Linked DNA regions of Homo sapiens. The protein of the gene in region 1 purifies or fractionates together with the protein of each later gene. This does not show direct contact. Each region holds a gene or a part of one and is shown in the gene's direction. Other genes may lie near its edges.

Evidence for each region.
Region 2: the proteins of NECAB1 (region 1) and RNF138 purify together in Homo sapiens (affinity purification with mass spectrometry; 2 studies listed by BioGRID and IntAct, with this or other methods). This does not show direct contact.
Region 3: the proteins of NECAB1 (region 1) and KANSL2 purify together in Homo sapiens (affinity purification with mass spectrometry; 2 studies listed by BioGRID and IntAct, with this or other methods). This does not show direct contact.
Region 4: the proteins of NECAB1 (region 1) and CCDC6 purify together in Homo sapiens (affinity purification with mass spectrometry; 2 studies listed by BioGRID and IntAct, with this or other methods). This does not show direct contact.

The regions. Positions count from the first base shown.
Region 1 is NC_000008.11:90,955,347-90,960,219, forward strand, and holds the end of NECAB1 (N-terminal EF-hand calcium-binding protein 1), read left to right. Parts: intron 1-140; coding exon 141-166; coding exon of another isoform or gene 167-222; 3' UTR 223-3,660; coding exon of another isoform or gene 3,661-3,684; 3' UTR 3,685-4,047; downstream 4,048-4,873. Other genes in the region: uncharacterized protein C8orf88, read right to left, coding at 3,661-3,684.
Region 2 is NC_000018.10:32,094,751-32,102,504, forward strand, and holds part of RNF138 (E3 ubiquitin-protein ligase RNF138), read left to right. Parts: intron 1-7,754. UniProt on the Homo sapiens protein: E3 ubiquitin-protein ligase involved in DNA damage response by promoting DNA resection and homologous recombination.
Region 3 is NC_000012.12:48,664,626-48,672,379, reverse strand, and holds part of KANSL2 (KAT8 regulatory NSL complex subunit 2), read left to right. Parts: intron 1-417; coding exon 418-581; intron 582-3,107; coding exon 3,108-3,274; intron 3,275-4,590; coding exon 4,591-4,687; intron 4,688-4,786; exon of another isoform or gene 4,787-4,923; intron 4,924-7,754. UniProt on the Homo sapiens protein: Non-catalytic component of the NSL histone acetyltransferase complex, a multiprotein complex that mediates histone H4 acetylation at 'Lys-5'- and 'Lys-8' (H4K5ac and H4K8ac) at transcription start sites and promotes transcription initiation.
Region 4 is NC_000010.11:59,787,493-59,791,556, reverse strand, and holds the end of CCDC6 (coiled-coil domain-containing protein 6), read left to right. Parts: 3' UTR 1-2,810; downstream 2,811-4,064.

The DNA.
Region 1 (4,873 bases):
GGAAATGGTGACTAGAAAGATAAGTTATTATGCAGACTAAAGGTAAGGGGAATGGTCTCTTTAGAAATAATTTGCACCTTGAATGTTCTTTGCCCTATAAGTTATTTTCATTATTTTAGAAAACATTTTTCTCTTTTCAGCTTCGTGGTGGATCCTGAACAACTAGATGTTCCTAGACATTTTCTTTATGGTTCCAAGTGCAAAACAGGTGTTCTTATCTAAAACGTCAATTAGAAAATTATCTGCGGTTGTTAATCTACTGTATATTTTTGTTTGGTATATTTACTAAGTGCACTCTTTCAAAACTTATTCTATAACTTTATCAATTCATGTGAATTTTAGCTCAATTTTCAAAGTTCACTAATATTCTCAATATTTAATGCTAAATGCTTTGCTACATTGTAACTCACCTAAAACCTTTTAGTGACAAAATCCTAATATGTGGAAAAAAGCATATGCATAAAGGAATAATATTGTGAAAATGAATCTGTTATGATAAAGAAAAAATAAAGTGGAAACTTTTAGAGTATTACTTCATAGGGCAGATTTTGTAAACTGTCGTATACTGTAAAGGGTTAAATCAGCGTTTTGTGATTTTTAAGTAACTGTGAGTGAAGTTTATTCTTCAACAATGTCTACTCCATCCCCAACCCAACTCACAGCCCTATGACTACTATCTTTGCATTAGTTAAAAAGTTAGTATATAGGCATCAAACAACCTTGGCTGTAACCTATAGAATCTCTATCCACGTATCAGGTTATAGACTGGTTTTTCAAAAGTGAACAATCCTGTGATAAGTTGGAGTACCATTTAGTAATACAGCAACATTGTGTCATTTATTAGCATCATAATTCTTTGTTATGTAAGTTAAATATATCAAGAAAGAAGAGACTGTTTGGAAAAATGTGGTTCAAGTTTTATGCTATATAGTTTTGGTATGCGATACAGACAGCTAACTTTTCTTATGAAAAATACATATTTGCATGTAAACAATGATTTCAAAATACTTGAAAAATAAAATTTTAACCCAAATGAATAACTAAGAAATATAAAACAAGCACAAAATCTTAGGGAAGTCATAAAATAGTAGTGAAAGTATTAGACAGAAGACATCTGTTTTCGAATTTCAACACTAGAATGACTAAAACTATCTACCTATAGAACTATCTGTAGATAGTATACTATCTACACTCTGCTCAACAAGCTCAGAAATTAAATATTTTTAATAATAAAAATCTGTTCTGGTTATAAACCTTGCTAATGAAAATACAATACATATAAAAATGTATAGCCATGTTATTTTCTAGTATAAATTCCTTTGAAACTATAAGTCTTTGAGGAAAATTATAAGGTAAAATTTTCCTGTTTTTCCCCCTTTGAAAAACTCAGGAAAAAAGGAAGATTGAACTAATAAAATTTTATTTCTTAAATATAAATTTGACCTAAAATATTTTCTCAAACTAATTCATGAAACAGCAACTTTTACCAATACCTTTGTATACTCTCAGTTCTCATTCAGTATAAATAAAATTTTAAAATCCTTTCATAGTTCTATTAGAAATAAGTAGTAAATTTTGATATATTGTACATACACACGTGTGTGTGTGTGTGTGTGTGTGTGTGTGTGTGTGTGTGTGTATTTGTGTGCCTCTGGTCAACTCTAAGGATGACAGACACTGTGTAACAACACCTGGGTCAACTCTTTTAATTTATATACAAAGCAAAGAACAACATTAATGGAGATGCACAATGATTATTCAAACAAGCTATATATATGTACAAAGGCAAACAGACACATAACAGTCTCTGCAGACTGATTGTATATAGTAAGAAAAGATCAAAAGACTTTAAAACCTAAATGACTTTTGACATACAAACTCTTCTTGAGAATGTTTGTTGTAAATGGTTTCAAAAATACAAATTATAGCCAATCAAAACATTGCTTTGGTTGGTGCATTTAAGTATCCAACTCAAAAAGCATATCAAATATTTTGGGTACTAGGCAGTTTCCAAAGTAGCATGGTAGTATTACTTGTTAAAAGGGTTCTGTTTTCATTAACAGTACTAAGTGGAAGGGATCTGCAGATTCCAAACTGGAATAAGCTCTATCATATTCTGAAACAAGAATTAGAATGACTTGAGAACGGGCAAATAACAAAGCAAACCAATATAATTATATGGTCATTCTGACCCCAGCTCTTATACAAATTATACATGTATTTTTGTGTATGTTTGTGAGAGTTGTATGTATGTGAATGTGTGTGAGTGTGTATTCACATACACATATATACTGGAACCTATAGTAGAAAAGGAAACTAGTAGGGCCAAAAAAAAAAAGAAAAAGAAAAAGAAAAAAGAAAAAAAAAGAAAAAACTGGGACCTAAGTATAAATATCTCATCCTAAAGTAAACAATAAGTTTATAGTTAACGAAGATTTTTTTCTATTTAAAACCCCATTTTCCTAAAGAACAAAGTAGTAAAATAAAAAAAAATTTAAAAAATTAAAAAATAAAAAAAAGAGGTCACTAAAAGACCAAGATGGGAAACGTAACATGGAATACAAGCTTGAATCTGGGAAACAAGCTCAAAAAACAGTGAAAAAAAAAGTACTGGTTTAGGAGTTCAAAATTCAGTGAAACAAACTTTTTGCCAATAGACCTAGGGATCTAAGAAATAGAATTAGGGAGAGTTTACACTTACTTACCTATATATCAGCAGATTTTTCTGGAAGAAACCCTTTTTTTTTTTTTTTTTAAACAGTAACATCCAGAGTGACAAATTGCAGGAGATTTAATGTATAAAATTTCTAGGAATTAAAAGCTTAAACCCAAAAATTGTTCATCCATATATAAGAAATTATCGAATTAAAACTTAATGTATGTCAATTATTTTCAAATGTCTAAATTCCTTTGGAAATAAAAATATCAGTTTTACTTTGAAATTGCTCAACTTCTGCTATTCATATGGTCTGATTAGTGACATAAGTAGCAGCCGTTTTTCAACTTCAGTTTCATTCACTACCATTGTTTCCAAATTATCAATCTCTGCTAGTAATTATGAATTTAAGACCATATTATTATCAAAAACCTAGAGACCAATCATATATCTGAAAAGAAATACCCATTAAAAATTCTGCCTCCTGTTTATTGAGAACTATGCATTGAACATTCTGAATCATTCTAAGCCTCTGGAGAGACTGTAATGATCCATTCATGAGCTGGTATGAAATCAGTGGGAAGCAGAACAACAGAAGGAACTTTAAAAGCAACAAGCAATTATGTACCATATATACACTGTAGCAAATATTTTATATTTGAGAGTCTTTACAGCTTACATTTCCATTCCATTATTACAAGTGATGAAAAACAAAAAATTGCAAGTAGTATGCAAATTATAAATATACAGTCTTCCCACTTCACTAACCAAATTCCTACTTTCCAGTGTTACTTCCCAATTTATGCAGGAAACCTCCTGCAAAGCTGAAACTGATTAGAAAATTCTTTATATTTTAAAATAGCTCTTTCTCATTTTTAGAGAAGTCAAATAGCCAACCATCAAAATTAAGAATAAATTGAATTGTCACAGTCCATTACAGTTATTGTTGCTAGATCCACCTCATTTGCAGATGTCCAAACTTAAATTCATCTGTTCTTAAAATGCTACTTAAAACTTTGGTTGTTTTCCTGTAATATAAAAGAAAAAGTTAATTTATCAATTGATTGAATACAGTTTTTACTAATTAGTTTATCAAACCAAATACTGTGAACGTACCAGGTGTTTACAGATTTAAATGCATGTTACCATAGAAACTATTAAAGTAACTAGAACTGTCAAATAACAAAACGGCTCATGTTTTTAAAATATATGTAACTCATTTTAAAATATATTAAATTGTATTCCAAACCTGTTCTTCTGTTTCTGTGGCACCTAGGTTTAAAATATGTATTAATGTGTAAATCACAAGTAAAATGAATTCTAATGTACAAGTTTGTTTTAAAAAGTGTATGTCAAGCTTTTATTTACACAATAAAATGTTATTAAAGATGGAAAGTCTACAAATGAAAAAGTGACTATAGTTTATATAGCACTGAAGTTTACATTTATTCTTACAGACCATGGATTACATATCCCAAAGATCTTTGAACCGGTGGGAAAGTTGAAACATCAAGTACATTTTTTCTTATTTAATATTTATGCATGAGAAGTATTATAAAAAATTTTAATTCCTGCTTTAATTAACTTTAAAAAGAATTGGCTAGAGATCTAAAGTTAGGGAGTTTAAGAAATATTAATATAAACTATGAACAACATAATGTTTTTTAAAAATTATAATTTGAGGAAAAAAATACTATGAATTCCAAAGAATTAGAATACCAAAAATGGAGATAGAAGGTAGTAGTGTTTATCTCCCATTCGAACTGTTCTCAGTATACCTATATTCTGAATCTCATTTCAGAAGAGTCCTAGCTGCCTTTACCTATATAAAGGTATTTACGAAAACTCTAATAGGAAGTTAAATTCCAGTCAAATGTAAGTAGAGACCACAAAGAATGGGAATCATTTACTAAAAGCATAATGAGAGAAAGGTATCATACTCAGTAATCTCATGCATTATTTTATTAATCCTAACAGCCAGAGATTATCATCCTTATCAGCAATTGCAAAACTTATCATCCTTATCAGCAATTCAATGAGGTTAAGTGACTTGTCCAAGTTCGAACTACCGGTACACAGAATGGAGCTACAATTTGAAGCCATGTCTGATGACAAAATCCATGTCCTTTCCAATGAATATCCTAAGAGATGCATGTATGTATTTATTATGTGTATTTATTTAGATGGAATTTGATAAGGTAACACAGAAATATAAAG
Region 2 (7,754 bases), on another chromosome or scaffold:
AGGTGAGAGGAAGTTGTAATAGCTGCTAACTATATATATATATATAAAGCAGGTCTTTTTTGGATAGAATCATTCTAATTATCCTTTGGGTCATTGACCTAATGGGCCTCATTGTAGTTTTTAGCACTCCCCAAAATTCCGTGTAGATTGCTCTAGTCCGCTTCCCTTGTGGGACATTTTAAATCAAGGTTTATAATTTGATTTGACCTCAAGACTGTGGAAAATGTTGGAGATGATTGTTTTTAATTCAGGACCTTTCTCAAATCAACTTATTGTACGTAGACAGTTCTGCCTGAACAATGAATTAAAAGAATAGGCAGAGGGAGAAAAAAAGTTTAATTTGGAAGAGGTGGTAATGGAGGAACAGGATTTTAATCAGTTGGAAGGAGTTTAGTGGGGGAATTGGAGAGAAATTTTAAAAATTATCGTTTTTTTTTGAGACATGGTCTTATTCTGTTGTCCAGGGTGGAGTGCAGTGGTGTGATCATGTTTCATTGCAGCCTTGACCTCCCCCGTTGGAGCAACCCTCCCGCCTCAGCCTCTCAAGTTGCTGGGACTACAGGAGCATGCCTCCATGCCTGACTAATTTTGTTTTCTTTTTTATAGAGACAGGGCCTCACTACGTTGCCCAGTCAGATCTTGAACTCCTGGGCTGAAGTCATCCTCCTGTCTTGGCCTCCAAAAGTGCTGGGATGACAGGCGTGAGGCATGGCACCTGACCTGTTTTTTAATTAACATAGTTATCTATGTCATTTGCTCTACCTTCTTCACAAAGGACAGACCTATGCCTTTAAAGAAATTTATATTTGGCTGCAAAATCAATTTTTGATTCACGAATAGAGAGTTGAAGTGATAAGGGCTTTGGGTTACTGTGGATCAGTTAGAAAATGAAAAATTTTAATTGCCATTTCAATGACAGGAAAGGATTTGACTACTGACTATCCTAGTAAAAGGAGCAAGTTCATTATCATTAGAATAACATTACTAAAATATAAACTCCCGTTTAATCCCCATTCATTCCCTGAAACTGCAGTTGTTGAATGCTCTTTGTCTGGTGCAGGGACTACTAAGTACTGTTTCTCTGGAGACTTAATAGTCCGCTGGAGAGACCTATAAATGAGTGTGATTGATATAGAAGAGATTTTATGTGAGCATCTAGAGCAGGTATCTAAATTAGCCTAAAGGATAGGGATAATTTCCTAGATGAAGTAATGCCTTAGGTCAGCGTTTGTATTCAGTGTTTGTGGGGAATGCCAGAGTCAAGGAGGGTACAGAGGATGAATGTGAGCTGGACTTTGAAGTTTGGCTGGAGCCAAAGACAGCGTAGTGGAGATGGAGCTTAGCGTTATTGGCAGGAACTTACTGTGTAAGCTAATTTGAGTGTTTTCCTGAAAACCTATTAAATAATTAGATAACCTAATGAATAATACTAGACCTAGTAAATAATTTTTGGCAGGGGAGCAGCGTGGTCACATTTCATTTTTAGAAAGTTTACCTTCATAGCAGGGTTTTCAGCTTGGTAGTGGTGAGACTAGTGAAGAGGTCGGTCATTCATTGATGTGTCAGGGAGAGAAATGATTAGAACCTGAACTAAGGAAATGATAGTAGGAATGGAGCAGAGAGACTCCTGACATTTTAAGGACAGTGTAAGATTTGATGACTGGGTTCAGTAGTTAAGTGTGTATACCATATGTAGATCTGGAATACATGGAGCTAAAGCTGTGGGTGTCGAAGTGGTCACCGAGTGAGGTATATAAATGGAAAGATTGAAGAGCACCTAGATAGAGCCAAGTGTTGGAGAATACTTACTTAAATATCGAGTGGAGAAAATTGCAGCCAGACAAGGAACGAACAGAAGGATAGGAAGAAAACCAGGAATAAAGTGAGAGTGGAAACTGAGGATTCAGATCATCTGCAAATGATTGTTAAGGAAGCAGTCAGCATTTTCAGAGGCCTTAGAGTGGTCAGATGTAATTTTGTTTTTGTTTTTGTTTTTTTTGAAATAGGGTCTCGCTCTGTTGCGAGGAGTGCAGTGGCATGATCATAGCTTACTGCAGCCTCGACCTCCCAGGCTCAAGAAATCTTCCCACCTCAACCTCCCAAGTAGCTAGCTGGGACTACAGGCACTCACCACCATGCCTGGCTATTAAAAAAAATTTTTTTGTAGAGATGGGTCTTGCTTTGTTGCCCAACCTAGTCTCTAACTCCTGGGTGCAAACCGTCCTCCTGCCTCAGCCTCCCAAAGTGCTGGGATTACAGGCAAGAGCCTCCACACCTGGCAGATGTAATATTTTGAAAAACATGTTAAGACAAATTAATATGAAAGTTGAGCAGGTAGTCAAAGCAAGGCTTCAGAAGAAAGTACAGACTGGCGTAGGAGTAAGGTGTTTATCTCTTTTGGTGTTTTATTCTGTAATCTTCAAAGGCTCTTGGAAACCTCTGTTCTTCCTTGTTTTGAACAGTCAAGGAAATAATTCTTGTACATGGCAGAAGTAAGCTACTATTGCAATAAAAATTACATATAACAAGTTTGATTCTTTGCTGAACTCTTAAAAATGGAAATCTAATCTGTTTTTGCTTTTAGGCCTCTCTGTAAGGAGGCATCTTTTAAAATGAACTTCTACTTCTTGTTAAGCACAAATTTGTGTAATTTCCTATTTGACCAGCTTGAACATCCAGTTCCTGAGTTTTTAGTTCATATTTACTTTTTTTAATCCTTAATTTTAAAACAATTTTAAATTAATTATTTATTTTTGAGACCGAGTCTCTGTTGCCCAGGCTGGAGTGCAGTGGTGGGATCTTGGTTTACTGTAACCTCCACCTCCTGGATTTAAGCGATTCTCCTGCCTCGTCCTCCTGAGTAGCTGGGACTACAGGCACAACAAGTAGCTGGACTACAGGCATGCACCACCATGCTCGGCTAATTTTTGTTTTTTGTTTTTTTGTATTTTTAGTAGAGATGAGGTTTCACTATATTGGCCAGGCTGGTCTCGAACCCCTGCGCTCAAGTGATCTGCCCGCCTTGGCCTCCGAAAGTGCTGGGATTATAGGCATGAGCCACTATCCTCGGCCTAATTAATTAATTTAGAAACAGGGTCTCACTCTGTTGCTCGGGCTATATATATGTATATATGTGTATGTATATGTGTATGTATGTGTATTTGTGTGTGTGTGTGTATATGTGTATGTATATATGTGTGTGTGTGTGTGTGTGTGTGTGTGTGTGTTATTTTTGTTTGTTTGTTTGTTTGTTTTGAGACAGTCTCACTGTGTTGCCCAGGCTGGATTGCAGTGGTGCGGTCTTGGCTCACTGCAACCTCCCACCTCCCTGGTTCAAGCGATTCTACTCCCTCAGCCTCCCAAGTAGTTGGGATTACAGGCGTGCACCATCACGCCCTGCTAATTTTTTGTATTTTTAGTAGAGACAGGGTTTTACCATGTTGGCCAGGCTGGTTTTGAACTCCAGGCTGGTTTTGAACTCCTGACCTCAAGTGATCCTCTTGCCTTGGCCTCCCAAAGTGCTAGGATTACAGGTGTGAGCCACTGCGCCCACAATATATTTCTTATAGTTTAAATTTTTTAGAGATGGGGTCTTGCTTTGTTGCTCAGGCTGGTCTCAAACTCCTGGTCTCAAGCAGTCCTCCCACCTGAGCCTCCTGAGTAGTGGGGACTACAGGTGAGTGCCACAGCACCTGGCTTTGTAATTTTAACAGCTTTATTGGTATCTTGTTACTTGAGTAGTTATGCTCTAAGTATATACTTTAAAATAATTTTCTTCTTTCCTAAAATCTGTGCTATTTAATTATATAATAAAGGTTGAGGCCGGGCGCAGTGGCTCACGCCTGTCATCCCAGCACTTTGGGAGGCCGAGGCAGGCGGATCACAAGGTCAGGAGATCGAGACCATCCTGGCTAACACAGTGAAACCCTGTCTCTACTAAAAATACAAAAAAATTAGCCGGGTGTGGCGGCAGGCGCCTGTAATCCCAGCTGTTCGGGAGGCTGAGGCAGGAGAATGGCATGAACCCGGGAGGTGGAGCTTGCAGTGAGCTGAGATGGTGCCACTGCACTCCAGCCCGGGCGACAGAGTGAGACTCCGTTTCAAAAAAAAAAAAAAAAAGATTTACTTAATTTTAAATCTTGAGGACTAGTTTACAACCTTTGATTTTTTTTTTTTTTGAAGTTTTTTTGGGGAATGATCTCGATTATCGACTCGGAAAATAGATAGACTAAGTGCCAGATTTTAAATTATTTAATTTATACTGAAATTGGGAGCATGATGAGTGGGAATATTGTTTTTCCTCTCCCAGTGTTGTTGATTAGCCTTTTGTTGGGAGAATGCGTAATGGAAATTCGTCTAGCATCTGCTAGTTTAAAGTTGAGAGAAATGTAAAGAGACCTTTTTTGGTTATAGGGTAATGCCCTGTTCTGAAGATACGGGCCTTTTCAGGAACATGAAAATTAGTTTTAGTAATTCTTGATTTGTACCTTTTTCCTTCCTACTTCTGCTTTGTTTTGAAATAAGTTCTGTCTAGCACTTTGATCCATTCCAGCCCAAAGTGAGATGAGAATAATTCGTTTTATGTCTGAAGAAACATGCTTGGTTGTACAGAGGAAGGAACAGTAAAATTGGAGATAAGAGACCTGAATATCTCTATTTTATTTTATTTTTAGACAAAATCTCGCTCTGTTGCCCAGACTGGAGTGCAGTGGTGCAGTCTTGGCTCACCGCAACCTCCACCCATTGGGTTCAAGAGATTCTCCTGCCCCAATCTCCCGTGTAGCTGGAACTACAGGCATGCACCACTATACCCGGCTAATTTTTTTGTATTTTTAGTAGAGATGGTGTTGCACCATGTTGGTCAGGCTGGTCTCCAACTCCTGACCCCAAATGATCTGCCCCGCCTCGGCCTCCCAAAGTGCTAGGATTACAGGTGTGAGCCACTGCACCCGGCCATTCTTTGTACCTGTTATCACAGTTTGTAATCATAACATTTTTGGAATCAGATAATTTGACCAATGTCAGTTTCACTGGTTAGGCTGCAAGCTTTATAAAGAAAGCATCCAAGATCTCCTGTTACTTACTTAAGCCTACTAATATATCGTTTCACATATGAGAGTTTTTCCTGCCAGCTAAATTCTGACAAATGGAATTGCTGGGTCAAAGGGTAGATACAAACAAATATTTCTGATACATCACACAAGAATAATTGCAGCTCTAGTGAAGTGTCTTGTTCATGGAAAGTGCTCAAGGTTTTGATTTGAGAACTGTCAATTATATCTTTTGGTTAAGGGATTTAATACTTTTTAAATTAAGGTAAATTGGCATTCATTGCTTTAGCAAATATTAGGACTGCCTAATAGGTGCCTAGCACTGTTAGGTGCCAGGGATATTGTAAAGAGCAAATAGATAGGATCCCTGCCCTCTTGGAGCTGGGTGTTAGTGATTGAGATATATATATATATATATATAAAATCTTTGGTTGTACAGGGGAAGGAACAGTAAAATTGGACATAAGAGACCTGAATACCTCTATTTTATTATTTTATATATATATTTGAGACAGGGTCTTTCTCTGTTGCTCTGTTGCCCAGGCTAGAGTGCAGTGGCATGATCATGGCTCACTGCAGCCTTGACCTCTCTGGGCTCAAGTAATCCCCCTTTAGCCTTCCCAGTAGCTGGGACTACAGGCATGTGCCACCACCACACCCAACTAACTTTTTTTTTTTTTTTTTTTTTTTTGAGACGGAGTTTTGCTCTTGTTGGCCAGGCTGGAGTGCAATGGCGCGATCTCGGCTCACTGCAACCTCCGTCTCCCGGGTTTAAGCGATTTTCCTGCCTCAGCCTCCCAAGTAGCTGGGATTAAAGGCATGCGCCACCAGGCCTGGCTAATTTTGTATTTTTAATAGAGACGGGGGTTTCACCATGTTGGTCAGGCTGGTCTCGAACTCCCAACCTCAGGTGATCCACCCACCTCGGCCTACCAAAGTGTTGGGATTACAGGCGTGAGCCCCCGCGCCCGGCCTGTATTTTTTGTATAGACTGGGTTTCACCATGTTGGCCGGGCTGGTCTCGAATGCCTGAGCTCAAGCGATCTGCTCGCCTTGGCCTCCCAGAGTGCTGGGATCACAGGCCTGAGCCACTGCGCCTGGCCTGAGATATATTTAAATTAAAATAAATGCTCAGAAAAATGGTGTAATTACAAATGTATAGGTTTCGAGAGAGTATAAGAGAGGGATCAGATCTAGTGGGTGAGTATCGATGACCCTTTCTTTAGGAAGTGATATTGTTGCTGATATCTAAGAGAGATATAGGTATTAATTTGTGGAGGGCTGTGCTCGTGCATAGAACATTCTGGGGAGAAGAAACATTCTGGACAAAGGTCCCGAGGTAGGAGGGAACATGCAGGGCTTTGTATTTGAATGACAGAAACATCTTCTGGGCTTCAACCTCTTATAGGTTTCTTTTTTTTTTTTTTTTCAAAGACAGAGTCTGGCTCTGTTGTCCAGGCTGGAGTGCAGTGGCACACGCAGTCTTGGCTCACTGTAACCTCCGCCTCCTAGGTTCAAGCCATTCTTCTACCTCAGTCTTCTGAGTAGCTGGGATTACAGGCGTGCACCACCACTCCTGGCTAATTTTTGTGTATATATATATATTTTTAAATTAGAGTCAGGGTTTCACCATGTTGGCCAGATTGGTCTTGAACTCCTGACCTCAAGTGATTTGCCTGCCTCACTCTTACAGGTTTATTAACATTTTATTTTTTTAAGCCTTAGTTTCCTCATCTGTAAAATGAAGGAACTTATTAAGAAAAATTTATTTTTTTTTAAGAATTCAAGATCATGAATGGATAGTTTCTGGGATCCAGCCTAGCACCTAGCACATATTATGTACGCAATAAGTGTTAACTGCTATTTTCATAAATGTCATGTTGCTTTCCCAAAAATTGAGCTAATTTACAAAATGCCATTAGTACTATAAAAGTATATTTGTAATCCATCATCTTTGCCAATTTTGTTTTTTTAAGCATTTTTATGCTATTTTAATACAGTTCATAGTGGTGTCTAGAAGTCACATTAAAATGTATTTCTTTAGTTGCTAGCAAGGCTGCATGCATTTTTCCATATTACATTTTTGCTTGTTTGAGACAGGGTCTAACTCTGTTGCCCAGGCTGGAGTGCAGGGGCATAATCACGGCTTACTGCAGCCTCAACCTCCTAGGCTTAAGCGATCCTCCCACCTCAGCCTCCCAAGTAGCTGGGACTACAGGCGTGCACCACCATGCCTGGCTGATTTTTTTTTTTTTTTCTTCAGTAGAGAGGAGGTCTCGCTGTGTTACCCAGAATGGCCTCAAACTCCTGGACTCAAGTGATGCTCTGGCCAGGGCTTCCCAAAGTGCTGGTATTACAGGTGTGAGCCACCACACCTGACCTTCTTTTAGTTTCTTTTTTTTTTTTTTTTTTTTTTTTGAGACGGAGTCTTGTTCTGTCACCCAGGCTGGAGTGCAGTGGCGCGATGTCGGCTCACTGCAAGCTCCACCTCCCAGGTTCACACCATTCTCCTGCCTCAGCCTCCCGAGTAGCTGGGACTACAGGCGCCCGCCGCCACGCCCGGCTAATTTTTTGTATTTTTAGTAGAGATGGGGTTTCACCATGTTAGCTGGGATGGTCTCAATCTCCTGACCTCGTGATCCGCCTGCCTCAGCCTCCCAAAGTACTGGGATTACAGGCGTGAGCCACTGTGCCTGGCCCTTT
Region 3 (7,754 bases), on another chromosome or scaffold:
TACGTATATATACATGTATATATGTATATGTGAAAGATACATGTTAATTGAACACTTTAAAGCTGTCTTGACTGGTAAGTGATGATTTCATATCAAAACATTAAGAATGTAGATTAATAAAAGTTTAAAGTGTTCCGCATGTTCACTTTCTTTTCAACATAATGCAAATAGCTGGGAAAAATAAGACATTTCTCCTTCCCCCATTTTGGGAAATCACAGATTAGTATTCTTTCTTGGAGATTTTCTCTTTTGTTTTATTTAATAACAACTTGAATGGTACAATGTTTTGCAAAAACATTAAGGTGATTATGTCACCACTTGTTAAATAACAAACTTAGTCTGACATCTCTACTCTTTCAAACTTGGGTTTTATTATTATTGTTTTCTTATGCTTTGCTGAATTCTGTTTTATTCCAGACATGCTGGTGTCTACACAGCAGAAGAAGTGGCCCTGATTATGCGTGAAAAGCTAATTCGTTTGCAGTCGTTGTATATTGATCAGTTTAAACGACTTCAGCATCTGCTCAAGGAGAAGAAGCGCCGATACTTACATAATCGCAAAGTGGAACATGAAGCTCTAGGCAAGTTTTATGCCAGTTCCAACAAGCTGTTGTGGGTTTAACATGTGAATTTGGTAGTACAGTCATGTGTCACTTAATGATGGGGATACATACTTTGTTAGGTGATTTTTGTCATTCAAACTTCATGGAGTGACTCACGCTAACGTAGGTGGTATAGCCTGCAACATACCTAGGCTGCAAACCTGTACAAGCATGTTACTGTACTGAATACTGTGGGCAGTTGTAACAGTGGTATTTGTGTACCTAAACACATCTAAACAGAGAAAAGGTACAGTTAAATTATGGCATAAAAGATTTTAAAAATGGGCACTTAGCATGAATGGAGCTTGTAGGACTGGAAGTTATTTTGGGCGAGTGAGTGAGTGGTGAGTCAATGGGAAGGCCTAGCACATTATTATTTACTACTTTAGACGTTATAAGTACTGTACACTTAAGCTGTACTAAATTTATAAAAAAAGTTTCTTCAATAATAAATTAACCCTTAGCTTACTGTAACTTTTTTACTTTCATTTTTTTTTTTTTTTAATTGAGACGGACATGGAGTCTCACTCTGTTGCCCAGGCTGGAGTGCAGTGGCATGATCTCAGCTCACTGCAACCTCTGCTTCCTAGGTTCAAGCAGTTCTCCCACCTCAGCCTCCCAAGTAGCTGGGATTACAGGCACATTCCACCATGCCCGGCTAATTTTTTTATTTTTAGTAGAGGGGGGGTTTTGCCATGTTGGCCAGGCTGCTCTCGGAACTCCTGACTTCAAGTGATCCCCCTACCTTGGCCTCCCAAAGTGCTGGGATTTCAGGCATGAGCCACTGCGCCTGGCCTATAAGCTTTTTTTTAAAGAGACAGAATCTTGCTGTGTCACTGAGGCCAGAGTGCAGTAGCGTAGTCCTCACTCACTGCAGCCTTCAACTCCTGGACTCAGGCTATCCTGCCTCAGCCTCCTGAGTAACTAGGACTACAGATGCACCACCACACTCAGCTAATTTTTAAATTTTTGTAGAGACAGGGTCTCGCTATGTTGCCCAGGTTAGTCTTGAACTCCTGGGCTCAAGTGATCCTCCGACCGTGGCTTCCCAAAGTGCTGGGATTGATTACAGGCATGAGCCACTGCACCTGGCCTTTATAAACTTAAAAAAATTTTTAAGAAAAACTTCTGGACTCTGTAATAACACTTAGCTTAAAACACAAACACTGTACAGCTGTACAAAAATTTTTTTTATATCCCTATAAGCTTTTCTAGTTTTAATTAAAAAAAAATCCTTTTAAACTTCTGTTAAAAACTAAGATGCAAACACGTACATTAGCCTAGGCCTACATGGGCCTAGTGTCACTGTCTTTCACCTCCACATCTTGTCCCAGTGGAAGGTCTTCGGGGACAATCTCATGCAGCGAACTGTCATCTCATGATAACAATGTCTTCTGCAATACTTTCTGAGAGAACTGCCTGAGGCTGTTTTACATTTAACTTTTTTTTTTTAATAAATAGAGTGGAGTACATTCTAAGGATAAATATAGTAAATATATAAACCAGTAACATAGTTGTTTATTATCGAGTATTAGGTACTGTGCATAATTGTAGGTGCTAGATTTTTTTTTTTTTTTTTGTGATATAGTCTCACTCTGTCGCCAGGCTGGAGTGCAGTGTGTGATCTTGGCTCACTGCAACCTCCACCTCCCGGGTTCAAGCGATTCTCCTGCCTCAGCCTCCTGAGTAACTGGGACTATAGGCGCATGCCACCACGCCCAGCTAATTTTTGTATTTTTAGTAGAGATGGGGTTTCACCATGTTGGCCAGGATGTTCTCAATCTCCTGATCTGGTGATCTGCCCGCCTTGGGCTCCCAAAAAGTGCTGGGATTACAGGTGTGAGCCACTGTGTCCAGCCTGTGCTAGACTTGTATATAACTGGCAGTGCAGTAGGTTTGGTCACCAGCATCACCACAAATGTGTGGGTTGAACTATGATGTCACTAGGCAATAAGAATTTTTCAGCTTTGGCCGGGTGCGGTGGCTCATGCCTGTAATCCCAGCACTTTGGGAGGCCAAGGCAGGCGGATCATGAGGTCAGGAGATCGAGACCACAATGAAACCCTGTCTCTACTAAAAATACAAAAAAAAAATTAGCCGGGCGTGGTGGCGGGCACCTGTAGTCCCAGCTACTCAGGAGGCTGAGGCAGGAGAATGGCGTGAACCTGGGGGGCGGAGCTTGCAGTGAGCCAAGATTGCGCCACTGCACTCCAGCCTGGACAACAGAGCGAGACTGTGCCTCAAAAAAAAAAAAAATTTTTTTTCCAGCTTTGTTATAATCTTATGGGACCACCATAGTATGTATGGTCAATGATTGATTAAAAAGTGGTTATATAGTGCATGACTATAATTAGATTTATTTCTGTCTTGGTACCTGGATTGGGGGTCATTTGCTTTTGAAACTGCCTATCTTATGCCCAAGGATTTTCCTGTTTACTTGTTGACTTGGAGACGTAACCTTGATGGATTGCTTGGCAAATAACATCTTGACTCTTGTAACTCTAGGCAGTAGTCTCCTGACTGGCCCAGAGGGACTTTTGGCCAAAGAACGAGAGAACTTAAAGCGATTAAAATGTCTGCGACGATACCGCCAGCGCTATGGAGTGGAAGCCTTACTGCATAGGCAGTTGAAGGAACGGAGAATGCTGGCCACAGATGGTGCTGCCCAACAGGTAATTTGTGTGTATACCTTTAAGGTATATACGTTCACTTTATTTATTGTTTTTATTTTTTCGAGACGGAGTCTCGCACTGTCACTCGGGCTGGAGTGCAGTGGTGCGATGTCGGCTCACTGAGATCTCTCAACCTCTGCCTCCCAGTTTCAAGCAATTCTCCTGCCTCAGCCTCCCGAGTAGCTGGGATTACAGGTGCCCACCACCATGCGCCCAGCTAATGTTTTTGTATTTTTTGGGGTTTCACTATGTTGGCCAGGCTGGTCTCCAATGCCTGACCTCGTGATCTACCCACCTCGGCCTCCCAAAGTGTTGGGATTGCAGACATGAGCCACCGTGCCTGTTCATGTTCACTTTATTTACAAAGTTAGAGTAATTGTCAAAACACTATGTCCAGTCTTTTTTTGAGACAGAGTTTCAATCTTGTTGCCCAGGCTGGAGTGCAATGGCGCCGTCTTGGCTCACCGCAGCATCCACCTCCTGGGTTCAAGTGATTCTCCTCCCTCAGCCTCCTGAGTAGCTAGGATTACAGGCATGTGCCACCATGTCTGGCTGATTTTGTATTTTTAGTAGAGACGGGGTTTCTCCATGTTGGTCAGGCTGGTCTTGAACTCCCTATGTCCAGTCTTGGATCTGAAATCTGACTTTTTGCACATGGGTTATAGTGAAAGCACTTAGCTTGAAGTCAGGAGACATGGATTCTAGTGTGAGTCCCCACTGACCAGCTCTGTGTCTGCACAGTTAGCTTAAATTTTCTGGGCCTCAGTATTCTCATCTGCATATTGAGTAGTTGGGAAAAGTTTCTAAGTCCTTGGTTCAGATATTCTTCAGTTCAGAAATAAGCACAGGTTAATCCTAAATTGCTTGGGAATCTTGTTTTAAAAGGTGGGAAGGTAGAATAGGAGCAATTGAATGTCAGGAAGTAAGGTTAATAGGAAGAAGAATTAAGTGATCATTCTTAAATTTGTTTTTCAGACCCTTGGTCTCTGTTTCAGTAAGAGTAATTTTGTTTCATTTGTTGAGATTCCACTTAAGGCTGCAATTTCAGAGTTCTGTTGGTAAAAGACAAAATTTGTGTTAAATAGGCTATATCACACTTTTAGAATATGGAGAGGTGTATTTGGGATTGAGGTTGACTCATTCTTTATGCACTAGGTTTTAAAGTTTTTTGTCTTTTGCATAATATTGGTGAATCTATTTTTGTTAAATGTTGAATTTCTAGCCTTTAGGATGTGCTTTTCTTATATAACTATTTTCATCGTAATTGTTTGTGTGTTCTTTTGTGGGTCTATTTTATCTGTCTTTTTCCATTTCAGGCCCATACCACTCGTTCCAGTCAGAGGTGCTTGGCCTTTGTGGATGATGTTCGTTGTTCCAATCAGTCTCTTCCAATGACCAGACACTGCCTTACCCGTATCTTTTTACTCTGCCTGTTAAGGCTGTGGTTTGCTAGTTTGAAGACTAGTGGGAATCTCTGTGCTAGTTTGCTTAATTGAAGGATTTTGTTTTCCTTTGGCCCTGAATCAAGGCCAGCAGTTTGCTGAAGCTGTTGGTTTCAAGCAGGAGCCTAAAGAATTGTCTTTCTATGGTCTGTTGGCCATTTCATAACTTTGGAAATGTAATGGTCAATTCATTAGAAAGAAACATGAGTCGTTTTTCATAGATGTGGGCTAATATTTATTTATAGCCTTAATACTTGGGTCCCAAAATATACATAAAATATTTGTAATTGTCTCAAGGTTTCTGATTTAACTTGCTTATTAGGATCCTAATGCTGTTAAATCTAATTATAAACTTAAAAAATTACTGTGGGTTTTCCACCCCAGTTGAAAGGATGATTTTGCACTGTGAACTTCTAGTATTATCCTTTTGTGTGGTTAGGGCCCTCACTTCTGTATTTTATTTTATTTTTTATTTTTTGGAGATGGAGTTTTGCTCTAGTCTCCCAGGCTGGAGTGCAATGGCGTGATCTCGGCTCACTGCAACCTCCACCTCACTGCACCCTCCGCCTCCCGAGTTCAAGCGATTCTCCGAGTAGCTGGGATTATAGGCACGTACCACAATACCTGGCTAATGTTTGTATTATTAGTAGAGATGGGGTTTCACCATGTTGGCCAGGCTGGTCTCGAGCTCCTGACCTCAGGTGATCCACCCGCCTTGGCTTCCCAGAATGCTGGGATTACAGGAGTAAGCCACTGTGCCCGGCTTTTATTTTTTTATTTGTGTTTTTTGAGACAGGGTCTCACACTGTTATCCAGGCTGGAGTGCAGTGGCTCAGTCATAGCTCACTGCAGCCTTAACTCCTGGGTCAAGCAATTCTCCTACCTCAGCCTTCTGAATAGCTGGGACTATGTATGTGTGCCACCATGCCTGGCTAATTATTTATTTTATTTTATTATTAATTATATTTTTTGAGGCAGAGTCTCGCTGTGTCGCCCAGGCTGGAGTGCAGTGGTGTGATCTCGGCTCACTGCAACTTCCACCTCCTGGGTTCAAGCAATTCTTGTGTGTCATCCTCCTGAGTAGCTGGGATTACAGGCACGTGCCACCACGCCTGGCTAATTTTTGTATTTTTAGTAGAGATGGGGTTTCACCATGTTGGCCAGGTTGGTCTCAAATTCCTGACCTCAAGTGATCTGCCTGCCTCGGCCTCCCAAAGTGTTGGGATTACAGGCATGAGCCACTGCACCTGGCCTATTTTTTTTTTTTTTATTTTTTGTAGAGTCAATTTTCAATATGTTGCCCAGGCTGGTCTCAAACTGCTGGGCTTAAGCAGTCTGCCAGTCCTTTCCTCCCCAAATGCTGGGCTTACAGTCATCAGCCACTGTACCTGGCCTTTATAAACTTAAAAAAGAAACTTGGCTCTTTAAAAAGTTTTCTTTTTTTAATTTTTTTGAGACAGAGTCTTACTCTGTTGCCCAAGTTGGAGTGCAGTGGCATGATGATGGCTTACTGCCGTGATCTGCTGGGCTTAAACGATCTTCCCACCTCAGCCACCAGAGTAGCTGGGACTACAGGCATGTGCTACCACGTCCAGCTAATTTTATTTAATTTTTGTAGAGAGGTTGTGTCACTATGTTTCCCAGGCTGGTCTCGAACTTCTGAGCTCATGTGATCCTCCCGCCTCAGCCTCCCAAAGTGCTAGGATTACAGTTGTGAGCCACCATGCCCAGTCTCTTGACTCTTTTGTGATAACACTTAGTCACTGTGCCTGGCCTCTAACTTGCATACTTTAAACATCATTCAAATTAGAAGTTTGCTATTTCCAAAAATGAGATGCTTTTTTTCTTCTTTTCAATTAATTTGCCTTTGAACCATCATAATGTCTCTTGATTCTGTTAAAGGACTACATTTGGCATTGGGCCTTCAAACTTTTTTGAGTTGTTGATTGAATTGTGAAAGTGCTTATTTATTATAGGCATTGAGAAAAATTTCGCAGTAAAAGCACTTGTTAATTAAATAGGATTGCTGGATTTCATTTGCTTGGCAAGAAATGCCAAATATTTGGAAATTAAAACTTATTTTCTTTATTTGTTTTTTTTGAGACAGAATCTGACTCTGTCACCCAGGCTGGAGTGCAGTACCGTGATCTCAGCTTGCTGCATCCTCCACTCCCCTGGGTACAAGCGATTCTCCTGCCTCAGCCTCCCAAGTAGCTGGGATTGCAGGTGCCTGCCACCGTGCCCAGCTAATTTTTGTATTTTTAGTAGAGATGGGGTTTCACCGTGTTAGCCAGGATGGTCTCGATCTCCTGACCTTGTGATCTGCCTGCCTTGGCCTCCCAAAGTGCTGGGATTACAGGCATGAGCCACAGCGCCCGGCCACTTATTTTCTTTAATAGGGAGAGGAGAAGGAGAACCTCTTCTTAGTCTTTTGACAGGAAGCTGATTTTTATTTTGCTTATTAAATATTTTACTAATTTATTAATTACAACAGATGTCTGATAAGAGATTATTGTTCTTAATATATAAAATGGTTGTGCAAAGTAATGAAAAACTCTAAAGATAAATGCTTACAGCCTGGACAATACAGTAAGACCTCATCTCTAAAGAAAAAGAAGAAAGAAAAATTATCTGGTCACGATGGCATGTGACTGTAGTCCTAGCTACCTGGGAGGATTTTTTGAGCCTAGGAGTTTGAAGCTGAAGTGAGGATCATGCCACTGCATTCTACTTTGGGTGACAGAGGAAAACCCTGTCTCTAAAAAAAAAAAAAAAAAAAAAAAAGCGGGCGCAGTGGCTCACACCTGTAATTCCAGCACTTTGGGAGGCCAAGATGGGTGGATCACGAGGTCAGGAGTTCAAGACCAGCCTGGCCAAGATGGTGAAACCTCATCTCTACTAAAAATACAAAAAAAACTAGCCAGGCATGGTGGCGGGTTCCTGTAATCCTTGCTACTTGGGAGGCTGAGGCAGAGAATTGCTTGAACCTGGGAGGTGGAGGTTGCAGTGGGAGGAGTTCACGCCACTGCACTCCAGCC
Region 4 (4,064 bases), on another chromosome or scaffold:
AACTGAAAAGTAATTTATCAGTAATTTTTAAGAGTCCATGTTTTGTGACAACCATCTCTAATAGCCAACTCTTTATTAAACACACTCCTAAAAATAAGGAACCATGACATTGTAGATATTTAATATTGTACAGTATAGAAACCTCCATTTTTGCCTTCGAATGCATATTTAAGAGTTAACAGAATGAAAAAAAAAAGTCTTGTTGGATAATAGTGTTTGACTAGCGTTTTAAGAACTTGAGAGTAAAAGCAACAATAAGATTTTTTCACCTCTTCCTGCTTCCACCCCCAAACTGAGAACATCACTCAATTGTTTGGAAGAAACTGTAGGTCTATATAAATTTTATTTATAATGTATGTGTAATATACATAATCATAATACAGTTCTCAGATGCAGGGAAGAAGTTTGGCATTTAATCATTGAGGCTTTAGGTTTTTGATGTGATCAGACTGGGCCATGTCAAACCCGGAATTTTCACCAACAGTTCACTCACCCTCCTGGTACATTGCCATTCCAAGGAATTCTGAGAGTAGGCAAACAAATTTTGCCTTCATGGTACAGTTCTCAGTTTTTCTTATAGGAGAAATATGGTATATGTTTATAAGAATCTTTTATGAGATTATAGATTTCAATGCTGTGGATAGTGTCTTGCACCCAAACAAGAAAGTCCATAATGGAATGATCTTCCCTCAGCTTCCTATCGATTTAGTTACCTCTTGAAAGCACAAAAATTAAAACATTGCCATATGTTGAATTTTTAAAAAGCACTTGGAGTGAGCGAACATTTCCTGATAAATGCCTTTTAGAGATAGGTTCTTGATATTCAGACATCTGCAGAAATGTTCTGGTTCCCAAAGTCATTTCACTTCGAAATAAAACACAGCTCCTTCAAACAGCACTTTTTCCACATAAATCTAGTTGCCTCTCCCTGTGGACATTCAGAACTGATAGAACAAACACTACTCTTTTGAATTTGATGGTTCGTGTCCTTTAAAGTGTTTGAGGACCTATGCAGAGCCTGTAACACTTGGGTAGTACCTGCTAGGACAATTTCTTGGCAATTGTCTTACTACTAGGGATCAGTAAGATTTAGATTCTGAGCCCATAATGGCAACAGCCCCCTCACCTATGGGAAGCTGACTTCCCTCAGTCGGGCACTTCTCATGGGGGCTGAACATGGTTCCTGCCATTCTGTTACCCACTCTCCCAGGTGAGCCCTGGATTGGCTCCCAGAAGGCCTTTGTAAAATCAGTAGCCGTCCTGCAGGCAGGTGGGAGCAACAGGGGCTTCAGTAGCTTCATTTTCCTGTCTTGCAGACAGAGACCCTTGGCTACCACTGTGCTGCTAATAGGATAAGTACTCTGTTGCCAGATTACCATGCCTTTTATACAAAACCAAATTAACTTACCTAATACCTGACACCTCTTTGGGCTCTGAACTGCTTTCTCTCATCAAGCATGCTAGCACTCTAGACAGAATTCTAGAAATTTGGCAGATAGTGGAAGCCTTTAATTGAACTTACTCCTTCGTTGACTGAAAGGAGTTTTAAATTCTGAGCTCCTGAGATACTGACTAGCAACCATGGAATGAATGTGTGACCAGAAAGTGGCTTTGACACCAAGTGCTACTGTCCCTTTGTAATTGGCTTCTAACAGAATTCAACCAGAAATAATTGATAATGTGAATTTTTGTTAATTGTTCACTTGTAGGAAAATAGAACATGTATCACCCTTTGTTAGGTAGACATGAACTTTTCCTGCACAAAGCCTTGCTTTTAGAGAATGCCCAATAAGGCAAGAAAAAGCATAGTAACTTGTGCTTTGAGAGCTCAATATTTGTATCTTATCAGTACAGAAGAAATATTTCTGTGTAACTTGATCTTCTGTCTAGTACTTGTCTTATAGGTAACCAACACTGAAAACTTTGTAGTGATGACTACCAAAGAAATACATAGTAAAACAACCTTTTATTTCCAAATTGTTAAAGAGCCAGCCATTGATGCTGCTACATGAGTTCCATGCTCAAGAGCCATTGTAAGAGATTAAGGGGTTTCTAGGTTTTTGGTGATTTTTTGTTTGTTTTTTTCTTTGTTTTTTAGGGTTTTTTTTTCTTCTTTAATTTTTTGATTAAAACATACACACAGCTGTTAGCATAAAGTCGTGGGGGGCATTTTCTGGAATGCTCAGCAGTTCTGATTAACTGCCAAGCCCAGGTTGCCTCTCATGAGGCAACTGAAAAAATCCTGTGTCTTGATAGCATGGGTGCTGTGTGTGTGCATGTGTGTGTCTGCATTCATGCCTTAACTCGGGTTACTGCACAACTTTAGTTCTTGACTTAGTCTGCACCGTCATCTAGATTGTATTGTACATCTCGGTCTGAACTTCATCCTGGCAAAAACAAAGTTGCAGGCACAACAGTTTAAGAATGCATTCCTCCAGAAGAGTATCTGGTCAGGTTGACCCCTGAGCCTTCTTTGGACTTGATTTGGAACTTAGCCTGGAAAGCGAAAGTGGACTGTCCAACAGAAAGATGTCAACAAGGAAAAGAGGAGAGCCAAGCGCTAGCATGCCTTTTGCCTCTGCATATCTGTGCACACTGTATGTTGTTCATGATAGCTTGTCTACAACTTGACTAGGTTGGAGTTCTGGTAATAGTGGCAATCTTGACATTCTTGGTCAGAGTTTAGAGAGATGTAAGACTTTCAATTAATGTCTTATTTACTCCTTTATGTTGATTAGTCTTTGATACATGTGCTGAATCAGAAACCTAAATAAAGATAATTTTTTAAAATGTACCTCTTGAGCCTTAAACCCTATCTTTTTTCATTTCGGTTTTTGGGAATAAAACATTGTTTCTCTGTTGCTTCTGACAGACATCTAACTTAAATTGTAAACTCTAAAGGCTGCCTTAGAAAGTAAATTTAAACAACTGGGTGCAGTGACACAAGCCTGTAGTCCCAGCTACTCAGGAGTCTGGGGTGGGAGGATCACTTGAGCCTTGAGAGTTCGAGGCTGTAGTGAGCTAGGATTGCGCCATTGCACTCCAGCCTGGGTGTCAAAGGAAGATCCCATCTCCAAAAAAAAATAAGGAATGATGGCACGAAAAGGGCTGGTATAGTTTTGCTTATTTGTTTTTGACGGAGTCTCACTCTGCCACCCAGGCTGGAGTGCAGTGGTGCAATCTTGGCTCACTGCAACCTCCACCTCCTGGGTTCAAGCAATTATCCTGCTTCAGCCTCCCAAGTAGCTGGGACTACAGGTATGTGCCAACACGCCAATACAAGTTAATTTTTGTATTTTTAGTAGAGACGGGGTTTTGCCACATTGACCAGGCCGGTCTCAAACTCCTGACCTCAGGTGATCCACCTGCCTCAGCCTCTTAAAGTGCTGGGATTACAGGCGTGAGCCACCATGCCTGGCTAGTTTTGTTTCTTAATCAGAGTGCTGGCTGCTTGGATGTGTTGAGGTTTTGAAAATTCATGAAACCGTACACTTAACGATTTGTGCACTGCTCTGTATTTGTGTTGTATTTCAGTTTAAAGCAGTAAACCTGAGGTTATGAAAAGGAAAACCATGCCCATTTCCAAAATGTTACATACAAATATTTATGTACAGGATTTGGATGTCACATTTGGGATGTTTCGTGAGCTTTAAAGTTTCAATCCACCTGTTTGGTGTTTTTTTTCTCTACTTTGTTGGAAGCATGGCTTTGGGATCAATTCTAGGTTTGAGTACCAATTATTTTCCTGGGATAGTTACTTAACTTTTCTGGGACTCAAGTTCCTTACCTGTAAAATAAAAATGTTATTTATGTGCCTGGCTAAAATAAGAAAATTGATGGATGGTACAGTATAGTCCTTCACACACAAAATCAGACGTGGACTAGTCTCTTCCACATCCATCCAATGAATGAGTATTTGGGGTAATGTTTTACACATGCTTGGGGGTATATGGTTTGTCAGTTGCATTTTCGTAAGCCCATAGTAGTTAGAGTCCACATTCTGTGGAAGAAATGCACAGTACTCAGTGGGATCCTCTTGGGAGTATAGTTTTCAAGAACCCATT